5 separate regions of the Homo sapiens genome follow, and all the other regions are linked to region 4. The links come from fine-mapping of genetic effects on gene expression. A gene starts in region 4. Each other region holds a variant in brackets. All regions are shown on one strand. Distances are from middle to middle.

Region 1 (5,106 bases), 90 kb after region 4:
GGGCTCCCCACTCATCACTGTGCTATGTCTTTACCTTTGAGGAGCTTAAAACATGGAGGAAGATGGGTGAGGGCCAGGAACTGTATGCCAACTAACAATGAGATATAGGGATGCAGAGGCAGGAGGTGAGGAGCAGTTAATAAGAGGCTTTGCAGAACAATCATGGAAGGGCATGGAAAGGCGTTGCAAACAAAGGGAAGAGCCTGAACAAAGACATAGAGGTGGAATCTTTGCAGTTTTGACAAGAAGACATGTTCGTTGGAAGCTTGGCAGCTGTCTTCGATGGTGTCTCTTTCTTTGCCTCCCATTTCCAGCTTTATTGCAATTTACTTATTTAGTGTGATGTCTCTTGAATTAATCCTTTTCTCTGAACCTCTTCCAAATTACTTTGGTTTAGGCCACCTTCCTCTGGCACTTGGCACACTAGTCTGGTTACTAGCTCAGGTACTGAAACCTAAACTTCAGTTCTTTGTATTTTGGTTCCCTCCTCTTTAAAATGGGGATTGTAATGCTGCCTAACATCTCAGCGTATTTGTGAGGACTAAATTAGTTAATAAGAGAAAAGAGCTTAGGATAGGGTCTGGCACATAACATGATATAAGTGTTAGCTATTATATTATTATTTTTTTGTTTTTAACACAGAGCCAAAATTACTTATAAAACTTAAATTTAAGAAGCAAAAGCACTACATATGTGTGATATTTGCTTTGGCCTCATTTCTTTCTGATTTGATAACATCCATGCAATTCAGTGGTGATAATTTGTGTGACTGCTGATGTGAAATCATTCATTCCATCAGCTTTGAGTGCCATTGGTGGCAGATGCTGGCTGTGTATCTAGAACTGTGTCTGAAAAATAAAATGAATTCAAGGTCTATCACTAACCAAAGAGGATAACCTTGGGGTTTTTCACAGTCTGTGTAGGGGATATTGCCTTTGCAAAATCGATGTCAGAAGAGACCCAGTCCATCAGCGGAACAGCTACTGGTAAGGAAGGAAGACAAAGCAGATAGTGATGGTCACACTACAGGACATCAGGGGGCCTGCAGAGAGCATTCTGAGACAGAGCAGTATAGAGGCTATGAGAGTGGACTGTGGTGTTTAGCCAGGGACTTCTCCTCTGCCACTTGCTTGCTCTGCGATCTGGGAGGGGTTAGGTAACCCCTGAGCCCTGGTTTCCTCATCTGTAAAGTAGGAAAAGATGAGAGCACCCACCTTTGATCTTAGGATTGGTGTGCAGCTTTAATGAGTTAATAACTATAAAACACTTGGAGCAGTCCTGACCCTTAAGGAGAACTTCCTAAGGAGTCAGAGACCCCAGAAAGGTGAATGATCTCATCTTGACCCCTTGATGTCTCTCCATTTTCCAGAGCTGCTCCTGTGAGGCCAGTCTGCGTCACTCTGTGATGCTGGGCCAAGACCATGCAAAGAATTAGTGTCAAGGGTTGTCAGTGGAGGCCCCCCTCTGGACATCTTCAGTGATAAGCCAATTGTGAGCTTGAGAGCTGGCTCATTCCAGCTTCAGACCATCCTAATGAGGAGAAAGAACCCCTGCTGGATGGGCTAGAAGCTTCCTCCCATTGCTTCCACCCACTGGCTATCATTTTGCCCACTGGTCATAATGGACCTTGTCCTTCTTCCTGACACTCCATCAGAGCACATGGAATTAGCCATCAAGCCACTCTGAGTCTTCCTTTTTCCAGCCTAACTGGAGATGGATAAGAGAATGTCTGGGTGTAGTAGGCTGACTTTAGATATCTAAAGTAGACACGGTCTGTTTTCTCGAAGCCATCGCATCAGAACCTGTGTGCCTCTGCAGGACTCAAGTACCAGCTCAACAAAGCGTGAAGCTGCCTGTGTTTTGGAAGAAGGGATGACTGTAAAGGCATTTTGTTCACAAGTATGCTTGCCCAAGGGCCTGCACAGTCTAATTTCCTTCAAGCCTCTCCAGAAGCTCCATTTCCTGATGATCAGTGGTAAACTCCCTGCAACAGGATAGGTGGCGTGAAATTTCAGATTTTATGCAAGTTCACGGCTAGAACCAATGCACAATTACTGCTAAGAGTTTGATTTTGTCACTGTGAAAGCCCCGCGGATTAGGCCTTTCAGAAGAAAGGGAAAAGCCGCTTCTGA[A/G]TTTTTAGCCTCTGTTGGGTACTTCACCATAGAACAGTGCTCATACTGCCAGTGCATTTACAATGTAAATGTTTTCTTTCCAAGGTCAAGGTTTTAGAGCCCAAGGCCACTATTGAGACCGCAGGGGCAGAGCCATAACAATTCTGCTGGCATCCTAAAAATAAAAAGCTTTATTTTCAAATTGATGATGTGGTTTAAAAGACAGAGTCTCAATAATTTACTTTTCTGCCACTTGCATCCTTTTTCTGTTGATTGGGCCTGGGAGAAAGAGGTTGGCTTCATATCGAGGGAGTGCCAATTTCTGAGACTTGCGTAAGACTAACCCTCTTGGATTCTGGTACTAATGTCCCAATCTTCTCCTCCCTTCTCCATCCAGGTGTGAGCTGTTAGATTCACTGAATCCTTAGGCCGAATCCTAAGCATGGTCAGGCTTCTGGCAGACACACCAGCAGAGTGTGGTGACACAAATTCTGAAAAGACACCAAAGGGGCAGCAATTGACAGAACTGAAGTGCCAAAGGCTTTAGGGAAAAGCTTCCCATGGCCGCCTCAGAGGGTCAGACAAGCATAGGAGGCAGGCTAGGGTTCTCAGTTCCTCATCATCATCCCTTTCTTCTTTCCAGGTCTCATCCTCCACGGAACAGAGAATGGTTTTTAGAGTAACAATGCATCCAAGGTATTTACTAAAATGGACACAGTATTAGCACTCTTAAAATTTGTCTTGAAGTTGCTCTTCTCCAAAGGCCCTGGAAGATTCTAGTAGGAGTCATTATTGCTTTCTCTGGAGGGGTGGATCTTTGCCTTGACCATACTGGACTCAGGCAGTATGAAGTTGGGGCCCTGGGGAATAAATCTGCGGGGGGCAGAGGAGAAAGAGGAAGATCAGAGAGTATAGCAAAGAAGAGAATGCACAGGTGAAGGGCACTGACCTATGAACAAGTTCAGTCTTGAGTATGTGTGAATGGAAAACCAACCCACAGGCAACAGCAAGTTCCTGCCACTGTCTTCTCAGTTGGCCCACGGTCAGCTACCAGTTAAGAGCAGGTGTTTGCTGTTACTGGACTGCACCAGCAGGCCCATGCAGAATTTGATGTATATAATAGCAGTCTTTCACATAGTTTTCATTTATATATAAACATATATTCATTCATACATATATATATTTATACATGTGTTAATATATGAATATATCAAAATATATAAATATTATATTCATATATACTTTTATAAATTTATATATGAATATGCTATGAATACAGAATATACTTTATACATTTATATGTATATATTTTTTTCCAAGCACCATGTTATTCATAACATCTCCCTCGAAATCCAACCTGTTTTTCCCAAGATTGAAGCAACCATTTCACAGCCATCAAATGATAGCTGTTAATCTTTTTTCCATCAGTCTTTTGGGATTTTTGAAAGACACTTTTTAAAAATGAAGTATCATTTAGAATTGTTTTTATGGTGCTTGAGAATCTTGACTGACTGAGTACTTCTCTGAAGGGAAGGGTTTAATATGCGTTTGAGTGCTTTTCTCTACTCCCTCCAACCCCAGAGCTAAATCATTGTTTTCTACTTCCTTGCTAAAGTCATGTCATAGATTTCTAATACCTATGGAAGTTTAACATTTGTCTTGTAGGGGAATATAAAAGATGGTGTCAGAATAGCTGGCTAACTGGTGTTCAGGAAGGTCACCTTTAATCATGTTGCCCAAGCAAGGTAGCCTTGATAAAATTACTACCTTTTCTGAATCGCTGTTTTTATATCTGTATAACAGAAGAGTTAAGATGGCTCGATGATGATAATATTTTTTTAATATAAATTTGAAACTCCCTCTTCCATTCTTTGATTCTTTGAATCCATTTTATTATAGGATTTGCCCTTATTGGTCTTTGCTCCTAGATTATTATTTTCCTAGTTTTTCCAATATATGCTTCATTTTTATTCTTTAAAGTTCATGTATCAAAAGTTACCTCCTTAACAGGCCTTCCTGAACCACTCTGTCTAAGTCATCCTGACCTGCAAATGCCCTGTTTCTGTGTTGTCATGTATTTATTTTTCATGTCCCACAAGAGGGCTGGGATCTTGTGTTTCTTGCTCACTGGGAGCTCATAAGCTTGAAGAGTGCCTGGTTCATCATACATGTTAAGATAAATGAATAACTTGTACTTTTTTCAAAATTAATTTCATACTTTGCTATGATAGAGTTTAATTTCTTAATTGTACCAACTTTAGAGATGTGAGAGGTAGGGAGAGGATGATGGCTTTTGTTTCTTGCCAATCTGGCATGAGACCTCCTGCTGTAGGCCATGTGGGAAGCCCTGGAATTCAGAAACCAGGGTGTGAAGTGTGGGCAGCATATCCCGCTGCCTTCTAGCTGCAGTGAGTACTCGGCAGGGGGACCCAGTGACTGTTTCTGATGGAGAAGTCATTGGAAGAGTTTGATATGGTTCCTTATGCCAAATTATCATTTTAAGTGATTCAGTGTCCAGCACATCAGTGTTTGAGGGGGAAAAAGAAGCTGAGATTACCCATGTACACATCTCATGCTAATAACTTGATGACTGGGAGCAGCGGTTTTTATCGCTTTCTTTGAGACAGTTTTGTGTTCATAGAAACTACATATACATAGCAAAGCAGATCAGTCAATCAGCAAACATTTCTTGCATACTTATTTACCATGCAACATGCTGTGGAATATTTCTTGTCATAACCTCCTTCAACTTAAAAGCATCCAGGAATGCTCTTCATGAACAGGTTTTAAAATGATTAAGTATGATCCTTATCCAGGGGTTGCTGCAAGTGTTGGATTTATCTAAACCATCTACCATTCTTAGATGATATCACAAAGTTTTCGGTGTCTACTTCTCATTTTTCAAATCAACTATGTAAGGGGTTCATTCACCTCTTAAAAATTGGCTCCTAAAATGGAATCTTTTAGTGGCAGCCTTCTAAGGTCACGTGGTCGA
Region 2 (5,106 bases), 130 kb after region 4:
CTCTGGTGCCTCCTCCTCTTCTGAAAAGTATACCAACTCTATTGATTTAAGGCCTTTCTCTAATAACCTAATTTAACATTAATTACCTCCCTAAAGGTCCTATCTCAAAATATAGAACCTATGAATTTTGAGGGCATACAGTTAAATCCATAACATTAGCATTCGTTATCTCGTACTCAAGTGAGTCAGTTTATCGATATGTCTACATGACAAGGCTGACAGTGCCGTCAGAACTGGAGCACAGACTTACGTTGTTTTTTGTATCTCCAACACTTGGCATGAAGCCTAAAACATAGGAAGCACTAGATAAAAGCCAATTATGTGAGTAAAAGAAATTACTAAATGAATAAATGATGGCAACTAAACCCAGCATGACAATTCAGTATGATATGGTTTAAACTTTTATTCAACAATATTATCTGGGGCCCATTGTGTCCCATGCTTTCTAGAACCTTTGAAATATCAGTAAACAAAACCATTAAAACTCTCTGTCATTTAGGTAAAATTCCTTAGGAGCTGCTGAAACAGGTATCTTTGTTCAAGTAATTTTTTCCAGGAAATGGTCGTAGAAGAGGGGAATGAAGGAAGCAGAATAGGGAGGGAATAAAAGCTAAGTAAGAATGGGGCCTCAACTGGAGGCTAGCCTTAGTTTGTTCCCATGGGGAAGCTCTGAAGCACAAATAACATAGCAGAGTTAGTCTTACCTTGAGTCAAGGGGTGCTTAGTCTTTTGTACACCCATGTCAGTCAGTCATTAGCTGAGGTCTTTCCTCCAGAGGATATAGGATATAGTTCCACAGGACGATGGTTGTTGTATTTGCCCATTTATAGGACGTAGAACTATCAAGATATTCTGAAAGATCACCTTCATGCCAGCAATTTTTTGGCCCCATGATTAAGGAGCAGTTCTATATCCTCATGAGGACAGTGGTCTATTATCCCCACTGTTATATAATGTCTGCTTTCTGTGACTGCTCGTCTATTTGCATTAAGATGCCCAATGACCACGTAGCACTCTCAACTGCATCCCTTGGTGGAAACACCTCCTTCTCTGGAGACTAGGACTTCTGTACCTATAGTGTATAAAGGTACAGACAAAGGACACACAAATTTCCTAAGCAGCTCATGCTACTCCCATCCCTATTTCTCTCACCATATGTTCTATCTATTGGGTACACATCACCATATAATGACCGTTGGTATACAGTATATACCCCATCATAAATTATAGCACCCCATCTTCAGAAGGATGTCATCTTCAATCTGACCCCTCAGCTGTACATTCCAAAGGTTGTTTCATCACTCTATCAGGCCAATAGCTTCTGGATGGTTTGTGTATGGCAGGACTGATGGATTCCACAGTTATATGCTCACTACCATTTTTAGGATGTCCAGACATTCACAGTCCTTTTGGATTTTAGCATGACAGAGAATGGAAAAATTAACAAAGTTCTGCAGCAACTCTGAATTTGTACCATTATTTGTGCCTCGAGAATGTAAACTGCTTCTGATCTTCCTCTCATGTAGATATGGAAAAGAACACATTCATTAGTTCGATAGCCACATATGATATATCTCAAGCTGTGTTAATCTCCTTTAGTAAAGACACCATATCTGGCACAGCAGCTACAAATGAGACTACACTTGGCTAAGTTTGTGATAGTCCATTAACATCTATCATAATGCATCCAGTTTTTGCCCTACTGAATAAATGGGATATGACAGAGTCTATTACTCCTGCATTACGTGAGTATTTGAAGGTGGCATTAATATCTGTCATATACTCCAGGATGGGATCTTGGTTTTGATTTACTATCTTGGAGCAGGGAGCAGTTTCAGGGACTTCCCCTTGGCCTTTCCTACTGCCATAGCTCTTACTCTGCATGCCAGTGTGGGAGTTCTGTCAACTCCTGAGTATGAAATTGTTGTTTATGCCTTTAGGAATCAGAGAAATAGCAATGGATGAGAATGAATCCATTGTGAGATGGACCTTGGCCAGGACTTCATTTATTATTTGACCCCCCATAGGCACTATCAGGGATAATATTGGTACTTTGGGTTCCTGGGTACTAGTGCCTACTCAATTCTATGTCCTATAGCCTTTGAAGGATTTGGGTATTCCCCTTTCTGCAGTGTACAATTATTTGAGTACATAGCCATAATTCTTTTCTTTTCGTTGTTGCTGTTATTTGCTTGTTGGGAAGAACTGGGAAAGCACTACTGTGCTCACTGGCTGTTGTGTTGTAGGATTTTTTTGTTTTCTGTGGGAATATGATCTTTCTTTAGTCGACGTGCTCTGGATCTGAGAACTCCTCAGGGCTGTAAACTGGGCAATCAAGACTTTCTAACATTTGAGACCAGCCTGGGCAACATAGCAAGACCTTGTCTCTACTAAAAATTAAAAAAAGAAATTAGGTGTTGTGTTGCTAGCCTGCAGTCCCAGCTACTTGGGAGGCTCAGACAAGAGGATCCCTTGAGCCTAGGAGTTCAAGGCTGCAGTGAGCTGTGATTAGGCCACTGCACTCCAGGTGGGAAACAGAGCAAAATCTTGTCTCAAAAAAAAAGTCTTTTTACAGAGGCAGCAGACCTTAAGTCTCTTGATCATCCATTCTCTGTGAACCCTTTTGTTTTTTGAGACAGTGTCTTGTTCTGTCGCCCAGGCTGGAGTACAATAGGGTGATCATGGCTCTCACTTCAGCCTCAAACTCCTGGGCTCAAGATCCTCCTGCTTCAGCCTCCTAGGTAGCTGGGACTACAGGCACATACCACTGCACCTGACTAATTTTTGTATTTTTTACAGAGACAGGGTTTTCACCATGTTGCCCAGGCTGGTCTGGAACTCCTGGACTCATGTGATCTGCCCGTCTCAGCCTCCCAAAGTGTTAGGATTACAGGCATGAGCCACCACACCCGACTGTCATTCTCTGAACTTTTTGGATCATGTATTTTAAGCAGTACACTTTCTGGTTGCCCATCTATTTTGCACCTAAGAATACTATGTTCTGTGAGCCA[T/C]TGCCATGATCCCTATGGGACAGATGCCTCTGGCTGCCATTCCAGTCTTGCTGTCCATTACAGTAACTGGCTTTACTTTATTCTTTTTCTGACTGTTAAGGGCTGCCTCCTGGCCTCTTCTTTTCCAGAGTCTTATCCTCATTGCTGTTAGGGAGCCCACTTGTGTAACAACAACTTCTCCTATCATCACTCCTGACCTACAGAGGATAATTACTGCTCACTTTTGCACTGCCTGTGACTCTCTCACCAGAGCCCTCTATCATTTTTGTTAATAAAATGTCCTCTGAGCCATCTTTTTTTTTGTTTTTAATTTGGCTACATTTTTATTCGAGCATGGTCATTTTCAAAAGAAATTACAAATTAAAAATTCAATAATACTTTTACAAAGACAATTCAGAAAGATTTTTGCATGGTATCATACATTGTATTTAACAGTCCCTCTTTTTAGCTAAAAAACAAGATGAAGAAAGTGGAATTTTCAATAAAAAATACAGTGTTTTCACAAGATCGTATCAAAAGTTCCCAAATTTGGAATTTCCAGTAATTGGAAAAAACAAAAATAAAATAATAAAATCGAAAAATTCCATCTCACAATTAATGTTCCAAAACACAATAAATGCTCTTCTCTTTACATAAAATTTGCCCAAATGACCAATGTCATGTTCCTTTTTTACTAAAATATATCTATATATTGAAGAACTATAATACCGTACACTATAGTATGAAATAAATAAAATTAGTAAATATAAAATTAGGAAATATAAAAAATAAAAAAACATAAATAAAATGTTATTTGACCTAAAATTAAATGAATGCAAAAAAAAAATTGTTGTTGCAAAAACAGTTTGGTGTAATACTGACAAAATTAATGAACAAAAAAGTACATAAAATAATTGCACGAACATATGTAAACTAAGGAACTGCTGCCTATTCTTCTAATACTGACATGGTTGCTTCAGAGAACAGGGTGAGCTTAACACTGAAGCTGGTGCAAAGGTAACCCATGTTATCTTCTTAATACTGTACAAAGATGGCACTTGCAGAAACACAGAGTAAAAGGTTTGCATAAAAGGCTTTTAAAACCACCTTACAAAGGCTTTATTTCTCATCTTACTTTTTCTTTTACATCCAGGTCACTTTAAGACTTCGGTATCTTAAATTCACACGTGCAACACTTCAAGTTTCTTCATAGAAAAAAAAAAATTGAGGCCTAAAATTGTGTGGTTACTTAAGCTGGAAAAAAAAAGGGAAATTGATGAATAGCAAAAGGAAAGTACAGAGGAATCGTAATACTGATGCATTGTAGTGCGAGCAGATTAAATTAAAAAGGAATAACAATAATAATAATGATGTATGGTAGTGCTGGCACCTTTTAAAAATGTATTGATGTAAATTAGACATAGTTTTGTAAAGTTTGTAGTGATACGTAAGTAGAGTGCAATTTTTACAATTTTCTAGTTGTGCTTAAAGTATAAATGCTATTAAACACAGGAATTAGTCTCTGAACCACACAGTTTTTAGGCCTTAACACTGTACAAAATTTTTGCATAATGCAGTTTTTAACAATACCCAGCTCCAACTCTGTCTACATCTGTCTTGGCTGAACCACCCCTTCTGTCCCTCTCCACAGCTTTCTGGAAGCGTCAGGCATGTGCATGAACCGCTTAACACAGCAATGTTTTCAAGCAGGTAACAATACTACTGGAAAAAAAAAAAGGAAGCTTCAAATGCAGTAGTTTAGTCCATGCCACGTTCCATATTGTCTTCCTCGTGGTCTGATTTGGTTTCCATTTTCCCATCCTCCGAACTATCGTCCATGGAGTGATCTCCAGTTTCTTCTTTATCTCGTATCGTTTCGGGATCCGTATCCATACTTTTATTTTCACTTTCTTCCTCTTCCGCCTCGAACTCCTCGTCGCCATCTTGTCTGCCCAGCTTCCCGTAGCCATCCTCGCCTGCCTTCTCGCGCTGTTTCTAGCTCTCGCCATCCCTCGGCGTACTCTTCCTCTCCTCCGAGTCAGAGTACCCTGGAGGGATAATGCTCTGCAGGTAAGCCCGGTTCATCAGCAGGGTGGGTTCCAAGTGCCCTTTCTCG
Region 3 (5,106 bases), 27 kb before region 4:
TTAATGAATGTCAATTTGGCCAAGAGTATAGAAGGAAAAATCAGGGTTTACTCACCACAAGGAGTCCCTGTGCCACCACATTCCATTCTATAAAGGAAGTGAAAGTGCTCCTCCCTTCGGTCTGATTTACGAGAGAGAAAGAAAGAGAGAAGATTGTAATGTTGCTACGCTACTTAGAGCTCCATGGTGAGGAAACGGGACAATAAAACCTGGTGTTACGAAGACTTTCTAATAACAAATATATTGCTCTCAACAAATAAGCCACATAGATCAGCCCTGGTAAAAGGAAGTAAAAGGCATATTTGTTTCCCCAGAGAAAGTTACCAAGAGCTCTCCCTACTTGTGCTACAGTGGTGGCATCAATCACTTAGGCCAAAATCAAGGCTTAATTTTGTCTAAAAAGAGAAAAATCTATTATAACATATAGGTGAGGTTAATCTTGGGCAGAACTATTTCGAAAGAGGTAAGGCATACGAAGGAAACTCAAAAGGTTAGGAAACTCTCAAGCATCTGAAATTCATAATTCTGGGAGACAAGAGCTCTCCCATGGGATAAACTCTCAAAAGAAAATGATACTATTGCCTCTTCAACCAAGAAAAATAAAAGCCTGTGAAGCCTCATGTGAGAGTTATGCCTAAAGCCGGGCCAGGGGACAGAACATTTGCTCACACATATTTTAGTTGCTCTAATAGTAAAAAACAAAAACCAAAAAACACTCCGGCATTTATTACTTAAGCCTGTTCAACTCATGTATCACTTTCTAAAATGTTTCAGTAAAGTTTTTTCAACAATAACTCAATTCTTGGTACCAGGCTATATCATTTTTCTCTACAATCTTCTTTAACTTTTAACTTACGTGACTGAGAATTCTAAAGCACAAAACGAAGTCACAAATTTCAGGAGAATAGAGGGCTGACAAAAATGCCAGGTAAATCAAATGTACATAATTAGCTATTTTTCATTCAATTCTACAAGCAAATTTGGAAAAAGGATGTTTCGTACCTCTAACATAATATAGAGCAGTCTGCTTTTCTGAAAAACAAAAAATTCTATCATTCTTCCAAGGAATAGACACTTCATATAATAAATCAAAACTTAGTTCTGTTTTATATGTCATGAATCATTAAAAAGATTATCCTCGTTCAAGAAGTTTCTCAAATGATTTCTAAAATGACACTACTCTTATCTGGGAAAGAGGGAAGATATACATAAGTGAATCTGCTTTTAAAGAATTTAGATGCATTTTCTAATTTTTTTTTTAAGTCTACAACAAAATATTTGTGGGCAAAGATTTTTCAAGGTTGTTAATTCATCAGAAACTATTTCAGTGAAGTATTCTTGAGATCACTGAGGACAGACATTAACTTTTAGGGAGGGAGTGCATCCTTGGCAAACACCACACACAAATATGACTGCAGATAATTACCCTGCCAACATCTCATAATGAACAGTACTTAAACAACAGGGTCAAAGCCAGCAAAACACCCTGCTGGATGAGCCATCATGATGAAGGCTGGGTTTACTTAAGGCACTGTAGAACCACCCTTGTCCTCAGCCTTAGTGAAGGGACAGGGTCTTTATTTTACTTAAGTCAAAAACCATGGCAAGTTTGCAGAAGAACTAGAAATAGGTTCAAATATTAAGTTATGAAGCAGAGAACACGGGGGTCTATGTGCTTTAAAAAGCTTCTCACAAATGCTGTACAAGATGTAAATCTGCAAACAGATGAGGTGAGAACACTGATCTCAAATATAAAAAGAAGGCAATAATTTACATTATTGATGTGATACTGAACCAAACAGTTCTAGAGTCTGCAAAGAGTTACTGTTTTCACGTCAGCATTGTGATTAATTTGACAAATGGACTGTTTCCTCCCTTTTGTGAAAACAATTTCAAAGAACAAAGAGACTAGGAAGACAGTAAGTTTTTACAGAAAGAAGATTGAAATACAGGAGAGTGAAAAAAAAA[A/AC]ATTATTTAAAAAATTGCAATCAACTTCTTTGCCAGTCTATTTCACTTCTTCTTATTTCTTTGAAAAAAATAAAGTCAGACTGAAGGAAAGAGCACTTTTTGCTTGCTGAAAAGGATGGAACATGACATCACTACAGGCAAGACAAATCGAATAATCTTTAATGGAAGTAGAAAACACAGGAATAAAAGCTATCAGAAGGCAAAATCTGGCTATTTCTAAATAATCATTTGGTAAACCTAAAAAGTATTTTTATATTCCAAAATATTTGAAAGGTCTTAGACTTAATATTAACAATAGCTTTGTTTATGTAACTTTTACCTTATCAAATATTTCAAGTTTCGTGACTTTAAAAATAATGCTCAAAGAGATATTTTCTAAATTGCTCAAAGAAACAAAAATTGCAGCCTATATTACTGTAAGCACAAATTACTCAATTTTGATAAACCATACTTAAGGCACTAAGACATTAGGCAGGATTTTCATATTCTGTGTAACCTGGCCTATCCTCAAAGCATTTATAATTGCCTGAACTCCGTTTCATTTAAAATTTAAATGAAAATTTAAGTTTCATTTAAACTCCTATCATTTAAAATTGCTGAAACAGTTATATAATTTTAACTGCATTTCATGTTTTTATACATATAAGTATTTATTAGTGATAGCATGAAATTAATTTTTCAGTTAATCCAAAGCAGAAATAGTAAGAAGTGTTTGCAGGGGAAATCCTCAATGGAGTCTTAAATGTCATGTGTAACAGGCTGCCCTCTAGTGTCATTTTAGCTATAAAACTTTGAAAAAAGAAAACATCTTATTTTCAAATGATACTCAAATTAATTTAGATTCAAAGTATTTCAAACTAATGTAAGAAAGCAATCATCTTATGCACTACAAAAAATCTTAAAATATCTAAAAAAGGTTAGAGGTAGGGATCATTAACCACTAGTAAAAGTAAATACTGGCAGAGGATTTAAGATTTCCCAGTTCCCTGTAACATCTTTTAGTTTTTAGAACAAACACTTTAAGAATTTTTTTTTTTTAAAGAGACAGTCTTGCTCTGTCAACCAGGATGGAATGCAGTGGTGCAATCACAGCTTACTGCAGCCTCGAATTCCTGGGCTCAAGGAATCCTCCTACCTCAGCCTCCCAAGTAGCTGGGACTACATGTATGTGCCACCACAACTGGCTAATTTTTTATTTTTTGTAGAGACAGGGTCTCGCTATGTTGCCCAGGCTAGTCTTAACTCCTGGCCTCAAGCTACCCTCCCACCTTGGCCTCCCAAAGTTCTAAGATGACAGGTGTGTACCACCGTGCTGGTCTAGAAAAGACTCTTCTAATGCTATTTTATGTGCCCTGTACCCCCACGTAACAGGGGCTACACAGAAATGAACTTGAGTGCAACACAGTTTTAGATGCCTGTACAATATAACAAGGTGGAACTTCAAACAACTGTCCCCGAAGAGAGACCCTTGGGATCACTGGCAAATCACCACTGTTACTTAGTATACCTCATACGTGTGCTAACCAATGCCCAAGGAAGGGACCACTCCAGAAGGAATACAGTCATTAGCTTATCTATCATTTTAATGTTTTACCACATTGTGCCAACAGCCACTAAGAACATGACATGTCTTTAAAAGCCGTCCACATAAAGATGGCTAGAACATGAACTTGACGCACACTGTTGATCAAAGAATAACTAAAAAGTAATGTAGCTCATAATGTAGATGTGAAAAGCCCTACATAGTATTAGTTATTTTCTTTCTTTACTTGAGACAGGGTCTCACTCATCACCCAGGCTGGAGTGCAGTGGCATAATCATGGCTCACTGCAGCCTTGACTTCTCAGGGTCAAGTGATTTTCCAACCTCTCAGCCTCTGGTGTAGCTGGGACCACAGACATGTGCCACCATGTCTGGCTAATTTTTTAAATTTTTTGTAGAGACAAGTTCTTACTATGTTGCCCAGGCTGGTCTTGAACTCCTGGCCTCTAGCGATCCTCCTACCTTGGCCTCCCAAAGTGCTGAGATTACAGGCATGAGCCACCACATCCAGCAATATTAGTAATTTTATGTCATGTGTTTCACCTGACTTTATCTAAATTTCCATGTTTCTATTCGCTTTATCCCGTTCCAAATAAAGATGTATATTTGGTAATGTTCTATTAGATTGTATTTGGGTCTTCTGAAAATGAACTAAAATGCCATGATATCATGAAGCTCCCAGGAGTGATAAAAGAAAATAGTTTATTGTGGTTAGGTTTTGTTAGTATTAATGCACCACGCTACAAATGCCTTTAAAAAGGCTTGTTAATAATAAGGCCTTCTTAAAACTTCTCCCAAAAGAAAAAAGGATGTACTAGAAATGCCTTAAAGCAAATAACTAAATTTCTAAAACTACCTTCCCATTTGATTAACTTGTGATTAATAAAATATGTAACACTAATTCACTGTTATCCTGGAAGGCAAGTAAGTTACAGAATATAGCATATAACAATGACAGGAGCTGAATTTTTATAATTGTTTTACTCCATGTAATCTTGCAAAACAAGCATTTTAAATCCTTTTATAATGTGATCATCATAATAATTATTCCAATTTATACTGGGAGGAATTTCTATCAAAACTGATTGTCTTATTTTTAAAAAGACTGTATGTGTTACTAAATATCAAGTATACGCTCATTTACTACTTTAAAAAAGAACCTTTCATGGCTTCAGTCTTTTAAAAAAACAAACCATATAAATGTGTATATCGACCACTAATTTTTAACTCAACTGCTATGGTTAAATTATTTTATTAATTATATATTTTATACACCACGGAACAGTCACCATAGTTCAATGAAGTCTCACAAATTATTGTCCATTTTAGCATTTTAGAACTTTTCCAGCATGAAATGTATGTAGAAAAGTGATGCATGTCAGAAATGTAACCTCGACATCTATGCTAAGAACTCAATAAAAATGCTGTGAAGAGTGACTATATACAGAGTGGAGACACACCGGCATAATTGTACAAAGAAAGAAAACCGTAAAAGCCAAACTCGCTTTTAACCTCAAGACCAATAAAGCATTAAGCTTCATGTAAGCTTAACATCTTCACCTTACTATTCTGAGTTTTGGTAGAGAAGAAAAAGAA
Region 4 (5,106 bases):
GATCAACAAATGTCTTACCTGTAGGAGCCCTAAATTCCTTGTGAGAAATGATAAAGGGAACTTTGGAACTGACTGATGGTTCAGCCACCAAGACACTAAGATTATGACTTTCAAAAAGAAAAGCCAAAGGTTGCCTTAACTTGCAGGGGGATCTAGATCTCAAGGGCAGTGGTGCTAGACTCTCAGAGGCACACAAGAATATAAAAAAATCAACAAGTAATACCTTAAGTCCGAGCATCTAGCCGTGGAGGACTAGTTTGATTCAGGGAGAAATGCTATCCAAATGACTCCAGGTGCTGCCACTCAAAGGCCCTCTGACCCAGGCCAGCTCCTAGGGAATCGTTTTTAAAAATTCTTAAAAGGAGGGGAAGGAAGGATTACAGAGCAGGGGAAGAGGGCAGCGCTAGACTTAGCAGCCTGGGCATTGAAGAAGGACTAAAATAATTGTTTCTAGTGGGGAAACCTCTAACAAATATGGTTATCGGAGCTACAGACTGGGTGCTAGCAGTGGCAGGAGCTATGTGACTAGCAGAGCAGGGACACCAGGGGAAAAGAAGGAGGGGCTTATGTGGAGGCTCAGAGAGAACACTGGCCAGTGGCTCCAGCTGAAATACTCCTGGAATTTGGAATTCTCACCTAAATCCTGATCGCCAAGGCTAGTGTGACTTGGTAAAGCAGGAGTGGCCACTGACATCTCCTCACACAAAATCAATGGAACTGGGGAAAGAACAAGGACTACCCCAACAGCTAAACCTGGAGGCATCTCCCTGATAATGACTTCCTGCAACTATGGGTTAAAAAAAATCCAGCCTTAAACATGGTGAACCATGTTGGTGAAGAATGGATACGTGGTATAATGAAGTCCATGGAAGTCCAGGTATCCAGTCCCAGAAAAAGCCAGGGAAGAAGTGTTAAGTGATACTGCAAGCTCAAGATCTGTGCTCATCAATAGGCTTCAAACAACTTCATTTCCTCTCCACGCAAACAACAAAAAAAGGCTTTTAAAATGGTGGCTTTCCTGCAACTGAGAAATGTTTTAAAGAAAGTATAGTGAAGCCTGGCTACATCTATCTCTATTTACAACAGAGTGCTTTTAATATTCAAGTCTAAGTAAGTAAACAGACAGTTGAGAGATTTGCTATTTTGTCTTACTGAGATCCTGCCAATGAAGAAAGTAAATACTCTTGAAAGCAAATGTTTAACTGAGAACTAAACCAAATAAAGTATGGTTGAGAATTTTTAAGTGGTTAATTGAAAAAGACCAAACAAGACCGTCTGTAATTTTCCAAAAATATAGACTGCTTCAAATAGAACCTACGTCCAGTTCTGGGAATCAGCAAATCAATTAGAATCGCATCTGATCAACTTTATGCCCCTTAAGTAGTTTTAAAATTTCAGTACTCAAGTACAATCAATGATGTAATCAGCCTCACAACTTAGTTATTTGCATGAACTTCAGGAAATAACGGCTAACACAGCCCCTTTTGGACAACAGAAGTAATTTTTTAGTTGGAAGAAATTTAATGGAGTTATGGTTCAGTTGCTGTTTACAGCTTGAGAATTAAAACGTTGGGTTCACTCTATATTCAAGAAGACATCCATCTCAAAACCTTTTTTCATTTAAAACTAATCTGTAACTGCAATATGAATACAAATGCAAGTTTTAAAAATTCTTTTAAAATGAGAATAAAAACCTACAGCTTATAGAAACTGTAACATTGTAACAATACGTTTAAAACTGGTCATTGAATGTAGGATTCATAAGTACACATTTTCTCATCTAGTAATTTTTTTGGCATAAGTTTCAGTTCAGGAAAAGTTCAGATGCAACATTTTATGGAGTGTTAAATATTTCTGTACTGGGCAAAACTACTGAACTTCATGGTCACTACCACACCGTCAGCTGTCTGTGAAAAATCTACTTGCAGGGCAAGTTAACAGGTTTCTATGGCTCAAGTTTGCTTAAAATACAGAACAAAAAAAGTCACCTTGGCATGAATATAATTAAGAAATCAGCCGTGTGCTTCTCACGTTTGGGCTCCGAGACGTGGGAGATGCCCGCTAACCTAAGACCTTCCGAGGGCGATGCAAGGACCCGGACAGAACTTTCCCGGCCGCAGACCCCTTCTAGGGCACACCTGGCCTGGCGCGGCCGCGGGGGCCTCGGGGCTGCGCGCGCAACCCGCCCGAGGAACTGTCAACGGCCGCGGAGCCTCGGCAGCCTCGGCGGCTCCGCGCGCCCACAGCCTGGGGAGCCCCGGGAGGCAACGGCAGCCGCGCGGCTCGGGGGCCGGGGTTCCAAGGCGCCCCCGCCGCCCTCGGTCCCCAGTCCGCCCCTCGGAGCCCGCCACGGCCTAGCGCCGCCCGCCTCACCTGTGCGGCCCCGGCGCCTCTCCCGCCGCCGGTCGCTCTCGTAGAAGCCCAGCGTCTCTGTGAGCTGAGGCGCCGGCGGGGGCCCCTGTCCGCCGCTGCCGCCCGGCTGCTCCGCCTCGCCGCGGCCGTCCCGCTGCGGGCCGTCCACGCCGCCACCGCCGCCTTCTCCCGGAGCGGCCGCGTCGCCGACGCCCGCCATGTTCCGAGCACAACAAACTGTCCCCGCCGCCTCCCTCCAGCCTCTGCCTCCGGCCGGCCCCCTCCCCGCCTCGCCCCGCCCCTCGCCGGAGCCCGAGCCGCCGCCGCCGCCGCCGCCATCCGCGGCCCGCCGACCGGCGCGAGCCATTGGCGTCAGCGACGCGTGTGAGGCCGCTGCCGCCGCCGCCGCCGCCACGGTAGCCGCCATCTTCTTCCTGCCCTCGCCGTGGCGGGCGACGGTTTCTCGCGCCGTGGCTGGCTCGGCCGGCCGGGGCACCGCGCCGGGCTCCATGCAGCCGGGCTGCGCGGTCCCGCAGAGCGGGCGCCTCCGGGGCTCGAGTCGGGGACCCGGCAGGAGCGGGCCGGGGATGGCGGCGGCGGGCGGCGGGTCGGCCGTGGAGCCCCGGAGAGGCGGCCGCCACCACCGCTGCCCGCAGTCTGCGAGGTGTCCGGCGGTCCGCTCAGGGCCTCTTTTGCAGACTCGGTGCCCGGAGTGCGCCGGCGCCGCCCGCCAGGTCTTGGCACTGCTGGCGCGGCCGCGGCGGCGGGGGCCCGGCTCCAGATCACCGACCCCCACGAGCGCCGGCCCTGCCTGCCCGCTATTTTGGTTCCATCTCTTCTGCATATTTATGCTTGCCTGTTACATTCCCTGGCCTCTGAGTGTCCTTTGGCAGTTTCCAAAGCATTTGGGCAAGAAGGAGCTTGGGCAGCTTCACAACAGGTGGGGACGCGCAGGGGAGGGGCCGCGGCCGGACCGGCAGAGTTTCAAGGGCTGGCGCGCCGGCGGACTTTCCACACTGTCTTTCGGGACTGGGGTTAGGAGACAGCCCTTGGCCACCACTGTGTCCTTACTTTGTCGCTTTACTTGGGGCTGGACCTCCCCTTTCCAGCTCTGGCGTGTGACCCCGCAACGAGCGTGGTGTCGAGACCACCACCAGCTGGGGCGGTGGGAGCGAAGGTGCCCCAGGCTCGGGGAAGGTGGAAACCTTTTCCCCGCTCCCCAAGTGATTGTTGCGCGCTCCGGTGAGGGGACAGTGGTACCTCGATTTCCCGTGTGCCAGCTTCGGGACTCAGCTGTGCTTTTGTGTCTCTTTGATTAGCAAAAGCAAAACGAATTCCTCCCCGAACACTAAGCTTCCTGGAAACTTCCCTAGACCTAAACTTGAGAACCGCATATAAATGGGCCTTGAGGGTTCTGTCGTCAGTAGCGGGTTACGTGATTGCAAACGAGCAAGTTTAAAACGGAGTGGGCTTTGGGCTGCAGAGCCGCCTGGCATTCTGACAGCTGAGCAGGAGGCAGAGGTGAGAGTCCAAGATGGACTAAAAATGTCCCAGCAGCTGGGAGCCCAACCTCGGCCCAACCTCGTTGAAAGGAGGAACATTCGGTGCAGCCGTCGGAACCTTATTATTTATGAAAGGGGACAGCTCACAGGATTACATTTTTCTAAGCCAATCCTGTGACCATCCTCCATGAAATTCTCTATTTTGGTTGCATGTGGTCAAAACTGAGCCTCACTGAAACAATTGAAAACAAATACTCCCGACAAATCTTAAGAATCGTTTTGAAAATCAAAAGGTGGGGAAAATGTTGTGGCTTCTGAGCTTTCTTCAGCCCATATTCTATTATTCTCTGATGTTTTATGGTGTAAAATCATACCCATTCCATTATGTATTGATTGTCAAGAAGGAAGTAGGCTTTTATTGCTATTTTTATGTCAGTTTCCATTTACTGTCTCACCACATTTATTGGGTTATTGCCTTTGCCTTTGACTCAACAGGAGCTGGAAGGGTAGGAATCCCAAATTCTGTTGCCTAAGGCAGCCAGTTGTCAGAATGGACTTTCCTCATTTTCTATTATGAGGCCTGAGGAAAGACATTCAGTTCCAAAGGCTGTGCCTATCCTTTTAAATAGAAGAGAGAGGGCCCGGCACGGTGGCTCACGCCTGTAATCCCAGCAGTTTGGGAGGCCGAAGGGGGCGAATCACGAGGTCAGGAGTTCCAGACCAGCCTGGCCAACATAGTGAAACCCCGTGTCTACTAAAGATACAAATATTAGCCGGGCGTAATGGCGGGCGCCTGTATTCCCAGCTACTCGGGAGGCTGAGGCAGGAGAATGGCTTGAATCCGGGAGGCGGAGGTTGCAGTGAACCGAACCGAGATCGCGTCGCTGGACTCCAGCCCGGGCGACAGAGTGAGACTCCGTCCCAAAAAAAAAAAAAAAAAAAAAAAAAAAAAAAAAAAAAAAAAAAAGAAAAGAAGAAGAGGAAGCAGCCGTGCCAAAAAAAAAAAAAAAAAGAAGAGGAAGCAGCCGTGCCGAGGCTAGGTACTGCCTAAAGAAGCGGGGGAACAAATTGGAAATGTGGGAATGCGAATGTGGGCAAGTTGAGGAACTTGTAGCTTCTCGTCGGTTGAATCTTTTCACTGAAGCTGCTTTATTATATCTGACATGTGAAACTACACAATTTCAAACAAACCCATATTGAAGTCAACATACAAAAAAGCATTTAAAAAACAACCATTAGTAAAAATAATTTT
Region 5 (5,106 bases), 40 kb before region 4:
CAGAAAGAAGTTCCATCATCCAGAAAGCTCCTTTGAGTCCCCTTAGTCAATCCAAATGCCCAACAAACAACCTCTTATTCCTATCATCATAAACGAATTTTGTCTGATCATAAACTTCATATAAATGAAATAATACATCATGTACACTTTTGTGTCTGGCTTTTCTGCTCAACATAATGCTTCTGAGACCTACATAGCTGACAATATTAGGAGTTCATTCTTTTATCTTTAATTGCTAAGTAGTATTCTATGGTATGGATATACAGTTTGTTTATTTTCCTACTGATAGCTATTTGGGTTGTTTCCAGTTTTTGGCTAGTATGAACAAAGCTGCCATAATAATTCTTGCAACAAGTCCTACTGAGGAAATATATTTCCTGAATTACAGGGCAGGTGAACATTTAACTGTAAAAGAAATGGCCAAAAACAGCAGTTGTAATACTTTACACTCACGCCATCGATGCCTGAGTGCCAGTTAATCCATATCCTAACTTGTGGCACTGTCAGGCTACAAGAGCAGTCACTCTGGAGGGTGTGCAGTGCTATCTCATTATGGCTTTGTCTTTCTCCAGTGACATTTTCCCTAATAATGCCGAGCAGCTTTTCATGACCTTATTGGACATTTATAGATTTTCTTTTGTGAAATGTCTGTTCAAGCCTTTTCCCCATTTTAAAACTAGATTGTCCTTTCATTATTGATTGGTATAGTTTGTTATATATTCAGAAAACAAACAAACAAAATCTATCGTCAGATATATGCATCTCAAATCTTTTCTCTTAGTACTGTGGCTGGCCTTTTCACTTTTTAAGTTTTATGATCACATATTTTAATTTTGAAGAAGTCCAGTTTCTCTCTTTTGTTTTACATTTAGTACTTTTTGTGTGGTCTCCAAAAATGTTTGCCTAGACCAAGGTTGTGAATGTTTTCTCCTATATTTTGTTCTAGAAGTTTTATAACTTTAGCATTTATGTTTAGGGTTATGAACCACTATGAATTAATTTTCTTGGGCAGGGAAGGGGCCAAAGTTCTTTTTTTTTTAACCTTTATCCAACTGTTCCAGCATTACTTGTTGAGAAACTCTTCTCACTAAATTTTGTTTTATAAAATATCTTTTTTATTGAAATGTTATTTTTGTAAGCATGTAATATTTTTATTAAAATTTCTCAGTTTTCATTTCGAATATGGTGAATAGGGAGAGACATAATCCATATAAATAAAAGTCCTTTGGAATCATCGTAATTTTTTTTTTTTTTTGAGACAGCGTTTCACTCTAGTCACCCAGGCTGGAGTGCTCTAGTACAATCTTGGCTCACTGCAACCTCCGCCTCCCAGGTTCAAGCAATTCTCCTGCCTCAGTCTCCCCAGTAGCTAGGATTACAGGTACCCGCCACCACACCCAGCTAATTTTGGTATTTTTAGTAGAGACGGGGTTTTACCATGTTGGCCGGGCTGGTCTTGAACTCCTGACCTCAGGTGATCCACCAGCCTCGGCCTCCCAACGTGCTGGGATTACAGGCGTTAGCCACTGCGCCTGGCTGATCATCATACTTTTTAAAGTGTGTAAAAGGGTTCTCAGGACCAAAAAGTCTGACAAGCGCTGCTTTGGATGAGCCATGTGTGCTCTTATCTACGACAGGACTGCAGGCCTCCCCATAACACACCCCTCCTTCCTCAAGGACATCATCAAGCCAGGTTCCTTTAGGGGTCCTCTCTATTGTACATCTGTCTGGATTCATGCTAAAACACCACCATTTCTTCATGACTTGTGCAAATGTCACCATGGCAGAAGAGATGAATAATGTCTTCATATTCTTGTGAAAACACTTTTGACTCTGAGCATACTCCCTGGCAGAGCCCCTGGGACTGTTCTTGGGGGCTCCATGATCCACCACGCAATGTGGCTCTGGCTTTCAAAAACTATGTAAGACAATGACTCCAGGCACAAAAATTTTGTGCCTTCACACTTTTTAGGATTAGAACGAAGGCAGTAAATAATAACTAAATAATAACTAAAAAAGCTAAGGACTTAGAGACAATCTGAGATTTATAGACATAGTTCTCCTAGAAGCTATGTGACTGTGGAGAAGTCAAATTATTTTCTGTGTTTCAGTTTTCACATCTATAAAATGGAAAAATACCACCCACTTCAGAGAAATTTCTAGACTATTAAGAAGCTTCTCAAAGTAGCGTATGGTGCTACACAAATGTTTCTAATTTTTTTATCTCAAACATCTTGTGATTACAGGAACCAAAAATAAGAAAACCTAGTAAAGATGTTGATAGCATAAGAGAAGGTACAGTTTAAGCTGAAGAGTGGCCCAGAGAAAATGTGCCATTAGGATTTCAGAATGAACTGCAAAATAATACTGCACAGAACTTCAAGTAGAATCTAATTGTACATACCGCTATTTGACATTTGAAAGAGATTGTTCTTTTCAAACTTCTTGAAAACACTTCCTTTAATTTCAACAAACTGAAATAGTAAACAGAAATACCATCTTTATGATTATAACAGTTTAAAAACTGGACTTGCTACTTATAAAACTTCCGGGAGAACAACATATAGAACAAAGAATTTTATCCCACCCAGAGTATTGCAGCTGAAATGCCTGTATAACTTCAAAAATGTAAGATAAATCTCATACTTACATTATTAGACATCATGATAGTAAGCAAAGACTTGTTGTGTGAGTTAAAAGCTACATTGAGAGTTGTTGCTTGAACCATTATAAGAATTGCATGCAAAACTAATAGAAGGTCAAGGAAAAAACTTAAATTTGCTTTCATATTATTACTGATAATACTATAAAATTTTGAAAGTGAATAATAAAGATGACTTTCTTTTCTAAATTGTCTTAATAAGTATTGTATTATCTTCATAATTTCCCTATTAGCTATAGTTGATATAAGTTTGACAGGATATGTGCAATCCACATGAAACGAACAAAAGTGGAAATGTACCTCTATGCATTCATTTATTTAGACCATGAATCCTTTGCAACAGGGTTGTTTTGTTCTTTCTGTATCTCTGGCACTTGGCACAGTGCTCAGGAAATAGGCCCTCAAAAAAGTTTGTTAAGTAAATGGAATAAATTATGGTAAATACTGAAAGAAGAGACTAAGAAATACACATTCTGAATTAAAATAATTTGCATTCTAAAAAAGAAAGCA[C/T]AAAATATAATTCTGGAAGTGATTTTCTTCCCTGAGTCTTCAGGAAATGTGGAATGTAAGGCAGTAGGAAATATCTGATAATTAAGATTCTTCTTCATATGTCATTTTGAAGATATCCATAAACTGCAGAATTATATTTGTATTACATACAGAATAGTTAATTTATATCTAAGAGTGGTAACTGCTTTACTCCATTAAAACTGGAACAAGATTTTACCCTCACAGGTATCTTCCAACTTGGTTCTTTAACTTTCCAAGCATTAACCCAATTTCTTTCAAGTGTCACTGTTACAGAGATAGAAAAAAAAAAAAGTGACTCATTCTTGTGAATGAGTCCTGACTTCACATGGAACTTAAGAGCAGGAATGTGTGTATAAATATGTAGGGGTACACACAAACATGTACACTGCTTATACAGTAAAGCACTTACTCTCCAATAGAAAAGCTTAAAGCCAGGGAAGAATACACAAACACATAAAACCACCAAAACTCCTCCCAACCAATTTCACATTACACTTTTAGATAAATTCCATGCATTTTAAGCCCATAAAAAAGAATTCCTGGATTTAAAGATAACTTCAAGAAAAATTCTAACATAAGTACGAAAAATTATATAGATCTATATCAGGTATGTATAAAGATACACTGCCTTTTTATTATAAAAGTCTTCCTTATAATCAGTTACACTGCAAACAGAACTGTTTTCCAGCAGCTCAAAGAGTAATGCCTACATGAGGCTCTTAAATTAGTTAGTTATTATGACAATCAATTTCTCAACAGAACACAAATATTTCACATTAATCTTCAGGATACATACATTATCTATATATCTTTAAATCTATAAAATGGCTAACCAAATAAAATAAGGTAGACTATGCATTAACTGTCGGAAATTTCCAGTAGGTCTATAAGGATACAGACATAGAGAACAGCCATGAAAAAGTGAGGAATCACCCCAATGTGGGCTCTTTTTCTTTCTTTAGGCTCTGTTGCTGTCCAATAGAGAGCATCTAATATGTCTTGTCCAAAAGATGAAAACAGACGATCAGCTACCTAAAAAAAAAAATTATTTGTAAGATGTTTCTTAATATTCCATTTAAATATATAACTAAAATTGAGATATAGCTCAAATCCTGGAGATCTGTGTTTTAAATCCTAGTAGAAGGCAAGCTAAAGAGGAGTGAGGATCTTTGTTTACTTATTCACTCACATTTCTTTATTCTTTAACAAATAGTAACGGCTAAAATATGTATAGAATTTCAGTTAGACTAATTAGCTATGTTTGTAACAAAGAAAGTCTTAAATAGTGGCAAAAATAAAAGGGGTGGGCACATCTGGCCGGGCACGGTGGCTCATGCCTGTAATCCCAGCACTTTGGGAGGCCGAGGTGGGCGGATCACGAGGTCAGGAGATTGAGACCATCCTGGCTAACACAGTGAAACGCCGTCTCTACTAAAAATACAAAAAATTAGCCGGGCGTGGTGGCAGGCGCCTGTAGTCCCAGCTACTCGGGAGGCTGAGGCAGGAGAATGACGTGAACCCGAGAGGTGGAGCTTGCAGTGAGCCGAGATTGCGCCACTACACTCCAGCCTGGGTGACAGCGCGACTCTGACTCAACCAAAAAAAGAAAAAAAGGGGGTGGGCACATCAAAATCATGGTTCCTCTGGTTTTAGCACTTTAAATTCAAACTCAGGATTCAAATTTAGGACAAATATATCATTTGACCTACTCATATCTAATATTTGTAAATAATGGTAACTATTTTTTTGAGGTTTATTATATGGAATAAAATATGCAGATTTACTTCCTAACCACATTTTCAGGTATCAATCTCCTTGAATACAGTATAACAGGTAAAAATTGACACATAAAAGAGAGAAAAGGAGGGCATGATATTCAGGATTCAGTCTGAATGCCACATCCTAACAGAGGC

The links. PIP is the estimated chance that this variant, and not a neighbour inherited with it, causes the effect.
Region 1: its variant is fine-mapped to the expression of TAPT1 in whole blood (TOPMed, PIP 0.99).
Region 2: its variant is fine-mapped to the expression of TAPT1 in whole blood (TOPMed, PIP 0.98).
Region 3: its variant is fine-mapped to the expression of TAPT1 in whole blood (INTERVAL, PIP above 0.99).
Region 5: its variant is fine-mapped to the expression of TAPT1 in whole blood (INTERVAL, PIP above 0.99).

The regions. Positions count from the first base shown.
Region 1 is chr4:16,313,676-16,318,781 of GRCh38, forward strand. All of the region lies in intron 2 of LOC124900674 (a long non-coding RNA gene), which reads left to right. Among named protein-coding and RNA genes, the nearest start is that of TAPT1-AS1, 90 kb to the left of the region's middle. The variant A/G (reference allele first, on the strand shown) is at 2,133.
Region 2 is chr4:16,355,937-16,361,042 of GRCh38, forward strand. It overlaps LOC124900674 (a long non-coding RNA gene), which reads left to right. Exons shown (of 5, transcript XR_007058064.1): 5 at 1-2,352. LOC105374505 (a long non-coding RNA gene) reads left to right here and starts at 4,929. Exons shown (of 4, transcript XR_007058069.1): 1 at 4,929-5,060. It also overlaps the pseudogene ZEB2P1. RefSeq lists an enhancer at 4,475-5,106. The variant T/C (reference allele first, on the strand shown) is at 3,012.
Region 3 is chr4:16,196,603-16,201,708 of GRCh38, forward strand. All of the region lies in intron 3 of TAPT1 (transmembrane anterior posterior transformation 1), which reads right to left. Among named protein-coding and RNA genes, the nearest start is that of TAPT1, 27 kb to the right of the region's middle. The variant A/AC (reference allele first, on the strand shown) is at 1,969.
Region 4 is chr4:16,223,886-16,228,991 of GRCh38, forward strand. TAPT1 (transmembrane anterior posterior transformation 1) reads right to left here and starts at 2,586. Exons shown (of 14, transcript NM_153365.3): 1 at 2,374-2,586. The coding sequence starts at 2,572. It overlaps TAPT1-AS1 (TAPT1 antisense RNA 1), which reads left to right and starts at 2,778. Exons shown (of 3, transcript NR_027697.1): 1 at 2,778-3,292. RefSeq lists silencers at 2,139-2,518, 2,629-2,678, 2,689-2,788, 2,799-2,868, 2,929-3,128 and an enhancer at 3,639-3,698.
Region 5 is chr4:16,184,131-16,189,236 of GRCh38, forward strand. TAPT1 (transmembrane anterior posterior transformation 1) reads right to left here. Exons shown (of 14, transcript NM_153365.3): 5 at 4,090-4,225; 6 at 2,651-2,748; 7 at 2,405-2,474. Among named protein-coding and RNA genes, the nearest start is that of TAPT1, 40 kb to the right of the region's middle. The variant C/T (reference allele first, on the strand shown) is at 3,173.